Homo sapiens: one gene and its partners. The protein of the gene in region 1 interacts with the protein of each later gene in a pairwise test. Each region holds a gene or a part of one and is shown in the gene's direction. Other genes may lie near its edges. The genes, in order: MUTYH, LRSAM1, CYLC2 and MSANTD3.

The links.
Region 2: the proteins of MUTYH (region 1) and LRSAM1 interact in a two-hybrid assay, tested with the Homo sapiens proteins (one large-scale study listed by IntAct).
Region 3: the proteins of MUTYH (region 1) and CYLC2 interact in a two-hybrid assay, tested with the Homo sapiens proteins (one large-scale study listed by BioGRID and IntAct).
Region 4: the proteins of MUTYH (region 1) and MSANTD3 interact in a two-hybrid assay, tested with the Homo sapiens proteins (one large-scale study listed by BioGRID and IntAct).

What each region holds. Positions count from the first base shown.
Region 1 is NC_000001.11:45,333,471-45,337,059, reverse strand, and holds part of MUTYH (adenine DNA glycosylase), read left to right. Parts: intron 1-2,092; exon of another isoform or gene 2,093-2,233; intron 2,234-2,548; coding exon of another isoform or gene 2,549-2,554; coding exon 2,555-2,669; intron 2,670-3,426; exon of another isoform or gene 3,427-3,456; coding exon of another isoform or gene 3,457-3,498; coding exon 3,499-3,589. UniProt on the Homo sapiens protein: Involved in oxidative DNA damage repair. Initiates repair of A*oxoG to C*G by removing the inappropriately paired adenine base from the DNA backbone. Possesses both adenine and 2-OH-A DNA glycosylase activities.
Region 2 is NC_000009.12:127,479,010-127,482,509, forward strand, and holds part of LRSAM1 (E3 ubiquitin-protein ligase LRSAM1), read left to right. Parts: intron 1-373; coding exon 374-496; intron 497-829; coding exon 830-969; intron 970-2,173; coding exon 2,174-2,218; intron 2,219-3,500.
Region 3 is NC_000009.12:102,993,912-102,998,147, forward strand, and holds the start of CYLC2 (cylicin-2), read left to right. Parts: upstream 1-1,421; 5' UTR 1,422-1,469; coding exon 1,470-1,486; intron 1,487-4,236. UniProt on the Homo sapiens protein: Plays a role in the establishment of normal sperm morphology during spermatogenesis. It is required for acrosome attachment to the nuclear envelope, and proper manchette elongation and disassembly.
Region 4 is NC_000009.12:100,430,079-100,433,667, forward strand, and holds part of MSANTD3 (myb/SANT-like DNA-binding domain-containing protein 3), read left to right. Parts: intron 1-3,589.

The sequences.
Region 1 (3,589 bases):
AATGTGGAAGTAAGCAGGTTTGGTGAAGGAAGTTTGGCTATGAAGGGAAGGAGGGTGGGATTTGATTGTGTTACGAGCCAAGGGGAAAATCTTTCCCTTTGCCCTCTGAAGATCTGCTGAAAAATCAGCTCACAAAAGGCAGGTTAACTGGAGAAAAGGCATACAAATTTATTAACATGCACATTGGGAGAACCATAAAGTGATTACCCATCTCCCTACAGAGTTCGTGAGTTTATATACCATCTGGCAAAACAGATTATGGGAGGGGTGTCTCACGTGTGTCCATGTGAAGAGACCACCAAACAGGCTTTGTCTGAGCAACAAGGCTGTTTATTTCACCTGGGTGCAGACAGGCTGAGTCTGAAAAAAAGGAGTCAGCAAAGGGTGGTGGAATTATCATTAGTTCTTATAGGTTTTGGGATAGGCATTGGAGTTAAGAGCAATGTTTTGGGGGCAGGGGGTGGATCTCACAAAGTACATTCTCAAGGGTGGGGAGATTATAAAGAACCTTCTTAAGGGTGGGGGGGAGATTACCAAGTACATTGATCAGTTAGCGTGGGGCAGAAACAAATCACAGTGGTGGAATGTGATCAGTTAAGGCTATTTTCACTTCTTTTGTAGATCTTCAGTTGCTTCAGGCCATCTGGATGTATAAGTGCAGGTTACTGAGGATATGATGGCTTAGCTTGGGCTCAGAGGCCTGACAAGGGGTAGAAGAGAAATTCTGTTTTTCTGTTTTTGTAGAGACGGGGTCTTGCTATGTTGCAAGCCTAATCTCGAACTCCTGGGCTCAAGTAATCCTCCTGCCTTGGCCTCCCAAAGTGCTGGGATTACAGGCCTGAGCCAGCATGTCCAGCTCTATTTGTTTTTAAATAAACCGAACTTTGGCCAGAAGGAGATTCTGTTGAAGGGCAATAAAGGATTACTAGAGAGAATGGAATGGGGACAGAGGTTGACTTGTTAATAGTTCTCTTTGGAATTTGAGTGATCCTGAGGTACACAATACCTGTGAAAGGGTTTGTTCAGGTGTGGTTACATGTTAGTCTTATTGGGAGGGGAAGAAAAAACAAGTATTCTTTTTAGTGAGTTTGGACTTTAGGCAGATAAAGAGTTCCAGAGAACAACTTTATCCTGGCTTTGGGAGAGTCTGGGGTGGAAGGATCAGAGAGACCTTGCGGCTTCTTGAGTTCAGCATGTCAGAGGGCCATATTTTGGGGTATTGGTTTCTTTTCTTTTCTTTTTTTTTGAGACAGAGTCTTGCTCTGTCTTTGTTGCCCAGGCTGTGCAGTGGCATGATCTCAGCTCACTGCAAGCTCTGCCTCCTGGGTTCAAGCGAGCACGTCTGGCTAATTTTTTTGGATTTTTAGTAGAGATGGGGTTTCGCCATGTTGGCCAGGCTGGTCTCGAACTCCTGGCCTCAAGTGATCTGCCTGCCTTAGCCTCCCGCAGTGTTGGGATTACAGGCATGAGCCACCGTGCCTGGCCTGGGGTATTAGTTTCTGAGTTCCAACAGTTAGACGGGATTGGAGGAGCAGGACCCTGAAGAGGAGGAGGGTAAGACAGTGCAAATGGAGGTAGATTTGAAGTTGGTTTTTTTTTTTCTGAAGGAGGAGGCAAGCTCTTTTGATGAAAATGAGGTGGTAAAGTCAAAGGTTTGGGGGGAGAGTTTGATACAGAGGCTTAGCAGGGACTGCATTTTATCACAGTATAAGAATGCTGGTCGTGGATTTGAAAGAACAAGTCGCTTAATCTCCATAAACCTCAATTTCCTTATAACTAAGGTGGAGGTGATACTAGTACATACCTCATAGAGTCACCAGGAGATTGAGAGATCCGGTAAAGCTCTTCATGGGGTCTGACATAGAGTAGGCACTCACAAAATATCAACTAATTTTAGCTGTTAGAGAAAAGGCGGCCATTATAACAGTTAGGGAGCAGTGAAAATCAACCAGGCACATTTTCTCATTGTTGATGGTCAGCCACCTATGGTTTACTAGATTAGGAATAAAAATAGCTAATCTCTGTTCTCCCACTGATTTGCCATCTGTTCTCAGACAGATCTTTTGTCCCTCTGATCCTTGGTTTCTTCTAGGATAAAATGAAGGTTTTGGACTTAATGACTACTACAGGCTGTTTCAGTGTAACCATGCTACATCTCTAAGAGGCAGAGAAACCGCCTACCCCCATTCTCCCAGACACACCTAAACAACCCCTATCCACACACACAGTCACAGTAAGCATCAGAGATACACAAATGCTCCCAAACAGGAGGCTTTCATCCTTGACCCATCCCAGCCCTGGCCTCACAGTCTTTGCATGTCTCCAGGGCTGTAACGCCGGCCCCCTTGAGGCCACTTGCTCAGCTATACTAGTTGTATCTCAGTGCTGCAGCCAGCCAAGAGTAAACCCGTGAGCATCTTGAGAGTGCTTGAGAGAAGCTGGACCCCATGTGAATGGTGGATGAGAGGGAGATAGCTATCACCCTTGGAAGGCCTCAAAATTTGGCCTCATTGTGACTGACTGCTTTGGCTGGGTCTTTTTGTTTCAGGCCATCATGAGGAAGCCACGAGCAGCCGTGGGAAGTGGTCACAGGAAGCAGGCAGCCAGCCAGGAAGGGAGGCAGAAGCATGCTAAGAACAACAGTCAGGCCAAGCCTTCTGCCTGTGATGGTAAGGAACTAGGTTGTGGCCCAAGGCTCATTGGCCATGAAAGGCAGATTCAGGCTGGGAAGGGATTGTGATACGTATCAAGACATTAAGAGACTTACTAAGGGCCAGGTGCGGTGGCTCACACCTGTAATCCCAGCACTTTGGGAGGCCGAGGCAGGTGGATCCCTTGAGCCCAGGAGTTTGAGACCAGCTTGGGTAACATGGCGAAATCCCCTCTCTATGCTCGCGTGGTGGTGAGCGTCTGTAGTCCCAGCTACTCGGGAAGCTGAGGTGACAGGATCGCTTGAGCCTGGAAGGCAGAAGTTGCACTGAGTCAAGATAATGCAACTGCATTTCAGTCTGGGCAACAGAGCCAGACTCTTGTCTCAAAACAAAAGAGACTCACTGAGGGTGTAATTCTGACTGTATTGCTGTGTGACATTGGGACAATTGCTCTGAATGGCTGCTTTCTTACCAGTAAAATGGAGCAGTAGTTCAGCATTTCCTCCCTCATGTGGCTTTCATGGGACCAAATGAGTTTATGAGCCTGAAAGTGTTTTGTGAATAGGAAGGTCCTGCACCAGTATACATTCTAGCTGGCTAAAACTATTAGGTTTTCATTATGGCTCAGAGACAAGCCAGTAGTACCACCCTGAGAAAATTAAGGCCAGAAACTTAGCCACAGCTACACACAATTACATAACTCTGGTCTGACTCCAGCTCCAAAGCTTAAGGGGGTTAGTTGGGGGAAGCCCTAAGTGGGAGCATACTGCCACAGGCTGCTGTGTCCCAAGACCCTGATGCACAGCCTGTGCAGGGATGATTGCTGAGTGTCCTGGGGCCCCAGCAGGCCTGGCCAGGCAGCCGGAAGAGGTGGTATTGCAGGCCTCTGTCTCCTCATACCATCTATTCAGAGACGTAGCTGAAGTCACAGCCTTCCG
Region 2 (3,500 bases), on another chromosome or scaffold:
TCTCAACTCAACTCATAAAATATTTGAGAAAATGACTTCTTCCCAGCTCAGAATTAGAGGTCACAGTAATGCCTTCCTCTTACACGCAGTCTGCTGCATCCTCACATGCCTCAGGTGGGTGGTAGAGCATCCATGGGACAGGTGCAGAGACTGAGGCTCAGAGGGGTTGAGCCCAGCACCGGGCTCTAGACCACTAGCCTCTTCCTGTGAACAGCTTGTTTTCTTACAGTTGGGCCCTGGAGGGGAGTGGGGGTTGCTCAGCATGAAGACCTGGAGCCTGCCCTGTCAGTGTTGAGGGGTGGATTCTCCCGACTTCTGTGTCCTAACTCCCCCAGGGCCTGTGCTGACAGTCACCAGGATCTGTGTCTTGCAGGAACAGAAGATGCTGGAGAAACTCGAGTTTGAACGGCGCCTGGAACTGGGGCAGCGGGAGCACACCCAGCTCCTTCAGCAGAGCAGCAGCCAGAAGGATGAGATCCTTCAGACGGTCAAGGAGGTTTGTGAGCCGCCTGCTAGGGTCCAGCCTGGCTGCATCCCCCAGCCAGTGGCCTCCTGGCTTGGGCCAAGGTCCCTCGGATGTGGAAAGGCAGTGGGATGAAGCTGTCACTTCCTTCTGTCCCCCAGCACCTGGGAGGGCCCTTACAGATCACCCAGCCCAGCCTCCCCGTGTGCAGATGGACACTGTAGCCTACTGGGAGGAGCTGGCCGGAGGTCACACAAAAAGGATTGGCAAGGCAGGGTGGGAAAGCCAGCCTCCTAACCCCAGTCAGTACCCCTCACGGCGTCTGAGGGGGTCCCAGGGGCTCAGGACCCCTACCTCCGGCTGCAGGAGCAGTCCCGGCTGGAGCAGGGCCTGAGTGAGCACCAGCGCCACCTCAACGCAGAGCGGCAGCGGCTGCAGGAGCAGCTGAAGCAGACGGAACAGAACATTTCCAGCCGGATCCAGAAGCTGCTGCAGGACAATCAGAGGTTGGGCTCTGCTCCTCGGCCCCAGCCCCAGAGTCCTTCCCCGTGCAGTCCCCTGAGGAGCCGGGAGGAGTGTGTTTCTCCCTCACTGCCTCTGCCCCTGCCCCGGGCTTCCCTTGTCAGGATCCAGTCTGGGTGCTTCAACTGGCACCAGCGTAGAGAGAAAAGAATCTGACCCAGTCATTACAAAGTCTGGTTTCTTAGCATGAGACTGCTACCAGATTGGACCTGTGGCCTCGGGCAAATGTTTCCCCACTGGGCCCCAAGCTTCCCATCTATAAAGTGAGTGGGTTTGACAAGATAGTTGGGATCACATCCTGCTCCAGTATTTTGGGTTCTGCGTAACCCGTTGCACTGAGGTCAGCTGTTCACCTGTAGTGAGATTTGCCTTAACAAACCCTGTGCAAGGTACGAGCTAGTAAGAGCAGATCTTGATGGGGCTGGGGAGACATGGCGCCAGAAAAGCCTGAGAAGTCTAGTGAGGGGGCCCATTGCAGGATGATTCCAGAAACAGGCTCCAGCCATATGCCCTGCCACTTCCAGGCCTCTTTTTTCTAACCCTGAATCACTCGTTCCTCCCTCACCTGTCAGTTTCAAAAGTACCTGCATGAGTTCAGGAAACCAGTCATTTGTTGGATGCTTCTTATGTGCCAAGCTTGTTACATCTATTTCTTCATTAAGTCTTTACAAATGCACCAAGAAGCTGGGTTGTTTTCATTTTGTTTTGTTTGAGACAGAGTCTCGCTGTGTCACTGAGGCTGGAGTGCAGTGGTGTGCTCTCGGCTCACTGCAACCTCCTTCTCCCAGGTTCAAGCAATTCTCTTGCCTCAGCCTCCCAAGGAGCTGGGACTACAGGCTTGGGCCACCACGCCTGGCTAATTTTTGTAGAGATAAGGTTTCTCCATGTTGACCAGGCTGGTCTCGAACTCCTGACCTCAAGTGATCTATCCACTTCAGCCTCCCAAAGTGCTGGGATTACAGATGTGAGCCACTGTGTCTGGCTGGGTTTTTTTATTCTTCTAATTTCATAGGTGAGGAAACCTGGGACTTGAGTGGTTTCAGTAACTGGCTAAGAACCCAGAGCTTCAAGGTGGTGGAGCCAAGGTGCCCCCAGCCCATTTCCTAAGCCCCTCTGCACAGCTAACGCAGTGAGACAGGAAACAGGCCTGCTGGTGACTGCCAGGACCTTTTATGATTTTCTCCACAGACAAAAGAAAAGCTCCGAGATTTTGAAATCGCTGGAAAATGAAAGGTAAGTGTTCTTCCAGGGGAGGGCAGCATTTTTTTTTTTTTTTTGAGACGGAGTCCTGCACTGTCGCCAGGCTGGAGTGCAGTGGCACAATCTCGGCTCAGTGCAACCCCCGCCGCCCAGGTCCAAGCAATTCCCCTGCCTCAGCCTCCCGAGTAGCTGGGACTATAGGCGCATACCACCACCAGCTAATTTTTTGTATTTTAGTAGAGACGGGGTTTCACCGTGTTAACCAGGATGGTTTCGATCTCCTGACCTCATGATCTGCCCGCCTCGGCCTCACAAAGTACTGGGATTGCAGGCGTGAGCCACTGCTCCCGGCCAAGGAGAGCAGCTTTGAGGGGAGAATGTCTTGTGATTCTCCAGAGGATTATGCCAGGACATTTCCCTAAAGCTATAAGGAGATTCACCTCCTTAGACGATATTTAATTACAAAGAATCATTGTCTTCAAGTTCATTAAAACATACGTACACTCCTGAAAAACATTCAGAGACATGAATAAGGCTAGATATATAATGTCCAACTATATTCCTAGTATAAAAAGTTCAGGCCAGGCGCAGTGGCTCACATCTGTAATCCCAGCACTTTGGGAGGCCGAGGTGGGCAGATCACTTGAGGTCAGGAGTTTGAGACCATCCTGGCCAACATGGCAAAACGCTGTCTCTACTAAAAATCAAAACTTAGCCAGGAGTGGTGGCAGGCGCCTATGGTTCCAGCTAAAAAAAAAAAGAAATTCAGAAAAAAAATCTAAATTTCTGGAAAGAAAAATTATTTAGTTACATAAATTATGTATGGAGGAATAACCTGCAGCCATTAAATGTCTTATTGAATAATATTTCTCATTAAGGGAAAACATAACATATTGCTAATGGAAAAAGTGACAGGCTATATTTATAGCAGAATTTTTAGTATATCTTTTTTTTTTTTTTTTTTTTGAGACGGAGTCTCACTCTGTCACCCAGGCTGGAGTGCAGTGGCACGATCTCGGCTCACTGCAACCTCCACCTCCCAGGTTCAGGCGATTCTCCTGCCTCAGCATCCCGAGTAGCTGGGATTATAGGCGCATACCACCAGGTCCGGCTGATTTTTGTATTTTTAGTAGAGATGGAGTTTCACCATGTTGGCCAGGCTGGTCTCAAACTCCTGACCTCAAGTCATCCGCCTGCCTCAGGCTCCCAAAGTGCTGGGATTACAGGTGTGAGCCACCGCACCCGGCCATGTGACTATTTGTGAAGGAAATATTTAAAGGACATTTTGCTAGGTGCCAACTTACCTTCCCAAAAA
Region 3 (4,236 bases), on another chromosome or scaffold:
AAAAAAGATAAGACTGATTTAACTATGAGGACTCCATGAAATATTTCAGGTTTGAAGATGTAGGGGGATGTATTTGAGAAGGAACTTAGGCAGTTTCTAAGCACAGAAAGCAGCTCATAGCTGACAGCAAGGAAGAAAACAGAGATATCAGAATTACTGCCACAAGGACTTAAATTCCACCAGCTGAAATGTGCTTAGGCACTGATTCTTTCTTTGAGTCTCCAGGTAAGACACAGTTCAGCTGACAATTTGATTTCAGTCTTGTGAGACCCTAAGCAGAGGACCTAGTTAAACCTGCCTAAGCTTTTGAATTATAAAATTATGAGATAAAAATTGAGTATTGTTTTATGTCTTCAATTTGTAATAATTTGCTATGTAGCAATAGAAGACTGACACATGCTCATTATAAAAATATCATTGGCTAAGATATTACTAGATCATACACATTTAATTAAGAATGACAATAAGAGATTAATTAAAGAGATGATAATGCAGAAGGCAAGTATTGCCTGTTGCCCAGTCATTATTTAGATTTTAATGTATGATGATAGAGTCAATGCATTAGAGATTAATATTTTCAAAAGCCACTATAGACTATAAAATGCTCAACAAAATATTATAGAATTAGACATTATACTTTACTTATTAAACTATCACTTTTCAGGAAAACTTCAGTAGATATTCTCATTAAGTCAGATAGTGAAGTAATCAGATCACAGAAATCTAAATTATGGAAAGGCTCCCATCCCAGCTCCAATGCCTCTATAATTTATCATTGTGTAAGATCAGCTAGAAACTTTGAGTCAAACTACTAATATTTCTGTAGTTTACCCCTTATAGAAGCTTATATTTAATAAAATTATTTCTTAAGACAAAAAATAGCTAAGATATTTTAAAAAGAGCTAAATAAGAGCAACATGTTTAAATGCCTCTCTATATAGTACTAGTATTCATTTATTAGTGGGGTAAGATTATGAGTTTAATAAAAATGTACTAACTCATATATTTATAAGTTTAAAAAGCATATAGCTTTGTTTAAAATATTCTATGTATGAGAAAACAATACGTTTAAGATGAGAGAAAGACATGTAAAGTTATGCATTGATTTAACAAAAGTTACAGGAATGAAAGGGAATTTAGGATTACAGCTGATCCTCACAGATAAATGTTTAGACTTACCTTTTTTCCATATCAGTCAATAAATTACAATTACATGAAAAAAATAAAACAAATATTTTATTAAAGTGTAAAATCAATTGATTACTTTTAAAACTCCTAGCTAGATTTAGTCAGTAATAAGTGAAAGTAAATATTAATCTTAGAATTTTAGAGAACATAAAAACACAAGTGACTCCTTTTGTTTTACCCCTTTAATTCCAAGTGCTCTTGGCTTCTTTATGATGTCACCTTTCAACATCACCAGTTTGAACTTACAATACTTAAGTCCTGGCAAGTCATAAGTGGGGAAAATGTCTCTCCCAAGATTGTAAGTCAAATTTTATGTTTTAAAATAACTGAAATACTCGTTAGCTTTACATTTAACTTCTTTAGTATGAAGAGATATTTATTATATTATTATGATGCCATTCATAAGCAAAAGATAATGTGTTTAAGCAGACAAAGATTCTCAAGCAACATAATAGATTTTTTTGATTTAAGACATAGCTAGTGCATGCATTTCAGTAAAATAGATACCTGGCTTTGGATAAGTCTTTTTTGTTTGTTTTTTTACTGCTAGTCTTACTTGATTTTTTTATCACATTGCATTTTGAGTAATATAAAATAAAATAATTCATGATTTTCAGTCAGGGAACCACCTTGGAAATTTCTGTGAATATTTTTTGTGTATGTAATAGTGACTGAGGAGTGTGACTGAATTTTAGAGGAGGCATTATATCGCAGTGTTAACCTTTAGTAAAAAGTGGGGCAGCTCTATCCAAATGTGACCAACTGAATACTAGTGGTATCCCTCTTGCAAAATATTGAGTATGTGGAAGTACTTTGTAATGTAAAGCATATAATCCAGACATGAGAAGTTATATGACAGTAGTTTACTTATGCTTAATTTATTCTGTGTCAAAATAAGGTAGGTAAAGAGCACGTTTCAATTCTGTAAACCCTTTTACAGAGGACATGCAACAAAGGTGAAGGAATGGAGTTTTGTAATATAAAGTATGGGTGGGCCTTAATTTAGCAGTATTGTTAAAGGAAAGATAAAACATGAATATTAAAAATAAAATAGGCTTTCCATAGATACTGGTGCCCATTTTGTTATAAAACAATCATTAAAGTATAATTTTTGGTAAAGGTTTAAATGCATTTGTCATGATTACTTTAGAAGCTGAGTAAATTGATGCCTACTATGCAAAAATCTATGTTCTGGCACCTAACATGGCAGAATTACACTGTATTTTAATTACTTTCAAATATATAAGCACTGTAAAATATCGATGGTATTATTGTTATCATGAGCATCAAATAGCTTTCAGAGAACTTGACCACAATGGTTAGAAACCTCTTTTTGGTCTTATGGCTATTTTTTATGGTGTTATTCTAGTGTAATCCCAAAACATTCTGGTTTTTGTAGGAGGAAACTGATAGAAATCATAATCAAATGGCCTCACCATTAGCCAGAAAAGCATACATAAAAATTCTTAATAACAAATTAGCATATTTCTTTGAGTTCAAGTGACAGCTCCCAATTCATTGAACACGCAAAATTTAAGATGCAGAAAATTAATTTTCGACTCCATTTGTCTTTTCACTGAATTCTTCTAAGGATGGCAGAGCCTTAGTTTTGGACTTAACATTTCTGTGCCTATGGCTATCAACTTGTATGTGATAAAGAAAATTTTTCTGTTTGAACTCAGTTTTTCCTTTCCCACTTATTCCTTCTCTAATACCTTTGCTCTATCCAAACCTCAACTATACCATTTAATAGTTTCATCACTTCTGGCCTTGGCCTCAAATTTAGGTTGTGTTAGTCAACTCAGCCCATTTATAATGTTGAATAGAACTAAGATTTCTGAAACAGGTAGGAGAGGTTATCACAAAAATTTGGTGTGAGATAGGGTATCTAAATATATGAACATTTAAAATTCCAATATTAGCTTCCCAATCTCGTATCTAATGTATATTTTATGTTTTTCTCTCTATTGAGTAGCATTACTAAAGTCGTCTCTTACTATCCTGGTCTAGGGATTCACCTTGATGTAGACAAGGTTTTATAAATCCTGGCACCACTCACATCGTAGTCTAGAAAACTTTTTGTTGGAATAGAGGATTAGTAGGTGCTGGGGGTAGGGGAGATCCAGCATTCTGTCCATTGTAAGATGCATTATAATATTTTTAACAGTATCCCTGGTCTCTACCAACTAGATGCTAGTATCATCACACGCACATACACATAGACAATTGTGACAAGGAAAATGTCTTCAGACATTGCAAAATATTCTCTGGGTGAGGAGTTCGAAATAAATCCATGCTAAGAAACACTGCTTCAGAAAATGCTAGAGAAAGACAGAGAATCTTACTACACACAGAGCCATTCCTCAGCAAGACAGTAATCCTGGGGCAGTTGACCTTGCCTTTACACAGAGACTCCTCTAGCAAATACAAGAAGAGAAGCTCAGGCTGCAGTCAGTTCCTAGAAAACTTTCTACCATGTCTTTTATGGTCTTCTTTTCCCTGCAGCTGATGCAGATTCCAAAAATCTAGTCTACTAGCAAGATATCTGGCAATATGCATACAATCAGGAGGTCTATGAACAACTCACATGTAACTTGGGAAGATATATCATTTAAATCCTTTGACTTTGAATCCACTATATATTTTTAAAACACATCTAAGCAGAGATACAGTTACAGGCAAGAGGAAAGATGGGTGGATTTTGTATTTAGATTAAAATATAACCCAGACTAAAAGGAAAAATAATCAGAAAAACAAACTTGGTTAAAGGTTTACCCCTGAAAAAAATTTTTTATGGTGATAGAATAGAAATAGATTTTTCTCTTAAGAAATAAAGTCCCCCATGTCTCTTGCTTCTCTACTTTTTATTTCAGAAAACTTAATCCTAGTTTTCTTTTCAAAGTTTCAAATACATTATATTCTACATTGTTGACAATGGGAAACCTTTACCTCAGAACATGCACAGTTACTGAAAATGATTTTGAAGTGACTGAATATATAAGCTTGAAGTGAAGGTGGAATTTTAGCTTCTACATGCCATTTAATCTT
Region 4 (3,589 bases), on another chromosome or scaffold:
TCTCTCCTCTCTCTCTCAAAAAAAAAAAAAAAAAAATCTAGTTGCAGTGTGTGTGTAATTTGTAAGCTGCTTCAAACCCATTTTAGAAGGAAGCCGTTATAAAGAAAATAAACATAACAGACTGGGTATTAATTGAGGAAGGCTTAACAAAAATTGCATGAGAGTTGGGCTTTGAAGATTGAAAATGGGCCGGGCGCGGTGGCTCACGCTTGTAATGCCAGCACTTTGGGAGTGAGACTCTGTGTCAAAAAAAAAAAAAAAAAAGAGAGATTGAAAATGGGCCCTTGGTGGCCTTGGGGTAAAGGATTCCAGCCAAAGGAAGCCGCGTGTTGAGTTTGGTCTGGTTAGGTTGAAAATACATGGAGAGAATGAGGGGCTGGTGGGGGTGCTATAATCAGGACCAGATCCGGAAAGGCCATGAATGCCATGTGAAGAGTTGGGACTTTTATCGTTTAGGCAGTGGGAGAGACGTCTGAGGTTTACAAGGAGGCCTGTGGCTTGATCACTGTGTTTTAGGAAGATCCCTGTAGTTGTGTGGAAGAGGGTATGGAAGTTTGGGAGACCATTTTAGAGATTAGCTCTGTCCACAGACATGGGCAGTGAGAATGGGAGAGGAGGGAACAGATGTTTGGGTAAAATGTACCATAGGTCTTGTTAATTAGTTGCATGTGATTGAAGATTACATTTCTGCTTTGGGAAGCCAAGTTGATGTGGCTGACATCATCAGAAATCAGGAGATTTTGGTGTATGGGGAATAATTAGTTTGGTTTTGGCTATGGAGAGTTGGAGTTTTCTGAGGTACCCATAGTGGGGCACAGAGGTGGCTGATAGATAATTGGAAATGTGTTTGATGCTAAGGAGAGAGGTTGAGGCTTGGAAGAGAGGTTCTTCCATCACTGCCACTTTATTCTTTTTCTTTTTTTCTTTTTTTTTTTGTTTTTGAGATGGAGTTTTGCTCTTGTTGCCCAGGCTGGAGTGCAACGGCGCAATCTCGGCTCACCGCAACTTCCACCTCCCGGGTTCAAGCAATTCTCCTGCCTCAGCCTCCTGAATAGCTGGGATTACAGGCATGCACCATGATACCTGGCTAATTTTGTATTTTTAGTAGAGACGGGGTTTTTCCATGTTGGTCAGGCTGGTCTCGAACTCCCGACCTCAGGTGCTCCTCCCACCTCGGCCTCCCAAAGTGCTGGGATTACAGGCGTGAGCCACCATGCCTAGCCTTTTTTTTTTTTTTTTTTTAAAGAGACAGCGTTTTACTCTTTCACCTAGGTTGGAGTGCAGTGGTGCAATCATTGTTCACTGCAACCTCAGATTCCTGGGCTCAGGTGGTCCTCCCACTTCAGCCTCCCAAGTAGCTGGGATTACAGATGCTCATGCCTGGCTAATTTTTTAATTTTTATTTTTAGAGATGGAGTATCACTGTGTTGCCCAGGCTGGTCTCAAACTTCTGGCATCAAGCAGTACTCCCCCACTGCCTTCCAAAGTGCTGGGATTACAGGTGTGAGCCACTGTGCCTGCGTCCCCACTCCCAACTTTTTTTTTAAAACAAACACTTACTGTGAATCTACTATGTGCTGAAGATAGATATAAAATGTAGTTCCATGCCTCGGAGCTCACCGTCAGATAGGGAGAGCCTTCAGGATATGGATAGATCTCAGTGCAGAGTAATTCTGAGTGCTGCAAGAGGTAAATACTTGGTACCCTTGTCCTAGAGAAGATTTGAGAGCCGATGGTTGTAGCTGAGGTGGTGGGAGTGGAGGAGAGTGTATTCAGTAGACGAGAAGGAGGCTGGAGTGGGAACACCTACAGAAGGGGACCTTCTGTTTTTCAACACTGCTTTCTGTGGAAGATACCTTAATAATGATTCCAAAGGCATTTCAGGGAAGCCGTGGGTGGGGATGGTTTAAGATGGAGTGTGGGGAAGGGGAAGGACGGGGTTAGGACTTTAAGAACTCTCATCTGGTTTATAGAGGGGACTGTGAGGATGGGAAAGTGGGGGAGACCTGGCTTTCAACACAAGGCTGGTTCTGCATGCACACAGTCACACTCAGGCGCAGATGATGAAAATAAACACTTCCAAGTTACATGGCTGCCTGGAGTGGGTGGAAAAGTGGTAGAGAGGGAATGCATTAGAGAAAGCAAGTTCGGTGCTAGGCTTGACTGGAAAGCTCTCGAAAAGGAAAGAAAGAAGGTAGAGAGGCAGAGAGAGCTTGGGTGAGTGGCCATCCTGGGCACACAGGTATGTACATGTGCAGGCAGGTAAGAGTACTGTCCAATTACTCTCACCTCTGGATAAAATGAAATCCTGAAGGCATCATAGTGGTTGTGAGGCTCTTAAAACATTGCCATTTCTACCTTCTTTGAACTGTAATGATGTTTGCAAGAAGGAAACGATTATATTATGATAAATCCTTTGTAAGAGGAGAAATTTAAAATAATAAAACATCTAGCAATAATCAGTTAAAAAATGCAAATGGCAAGCAGGTTGGTTATGGCAGGTAATTCCACAAATATTTATTGAGTGCTTGATGTACACCAGGCACTCTTCAAGGAGCCATAGTGAACAGATCAGATCACCTGCTTTTGCCATTTCACCTGGAACTGCTTAACTTGCACAGTTAAACCTGTTTAAAGGCCTTAAGCAAAATAACAAGGTCATCTAAAGTGCTGAGATCACTTCATTCTGCTGTAATGCTCTCTTTCATTGGCCAGTAGCTCCACCAGTCTCATAAATAATCAGAAAATACCAACTATGTGTCTTTGGCAGTGAACTGTGGAAATTAGATTGCAGAAAAACCATTTTAATGGCAGTGCTAACATGGATGACCAGTACTGGATAGGACTTTAGAGAATACCCCCTTGAGCTTTATAATTTAGAGACGAGGAATTGACAGCAAGTAAAGAAGACGTGCCAAGACAAATGTCACAAAATGAATGACAGAGTTGAGAGCAGTGCCCTGGAGTTTTCAAATGGTACAGTCGGGGAGGCTTGAGAGTACCTAGCAAAAAGGGCATCTTGATGGTGAGGGGGTTCTGAAGTGGGAGAGGGGTTGGAAAGCAAATGATGAAGCCTTGATTTCAGACTCTTCTCTGTTACTAGGGCCTTGGGAAGCCCTGTTTTGCTCTGAGCCTCAGTTTCCTCAACTGTAAAGTAAGAGGATTAGATTGAGGTCCTTCTTTAAATTTATTTATATTTTTTCTTTTTCTAAAGCTCCACTCTCAGAAGCAGTGGTAGGGTTGGGCTTTGAGGCCATGGGTCCAAGCCCATGTCCTTAACCTCTATATTATACTACCTTTTTTTTCTTGGAGACAGGGTCTTGCTCTGTCACCCTGGCTGGCATGCAGTGGCATGATCATATCTCACTGCAACCTCAACCTCCTGGGCTCAAGGGATTCTCCTGTCTTAGCCACCCTAGTAGCTGGGGCTATAGGCACATGCCACCTTGCCTGGCTAGTACTTTTAATTTTAATTTTTATAGCAATGGAGTTCTCCCATTGTTGCCTAGGCTGGTCTTGAACCCCTGGGCTCAAGCAATCCTCCTGCCTTAGGCCCAAAGTTCTGTGATTACAGATGGTGATCACCACA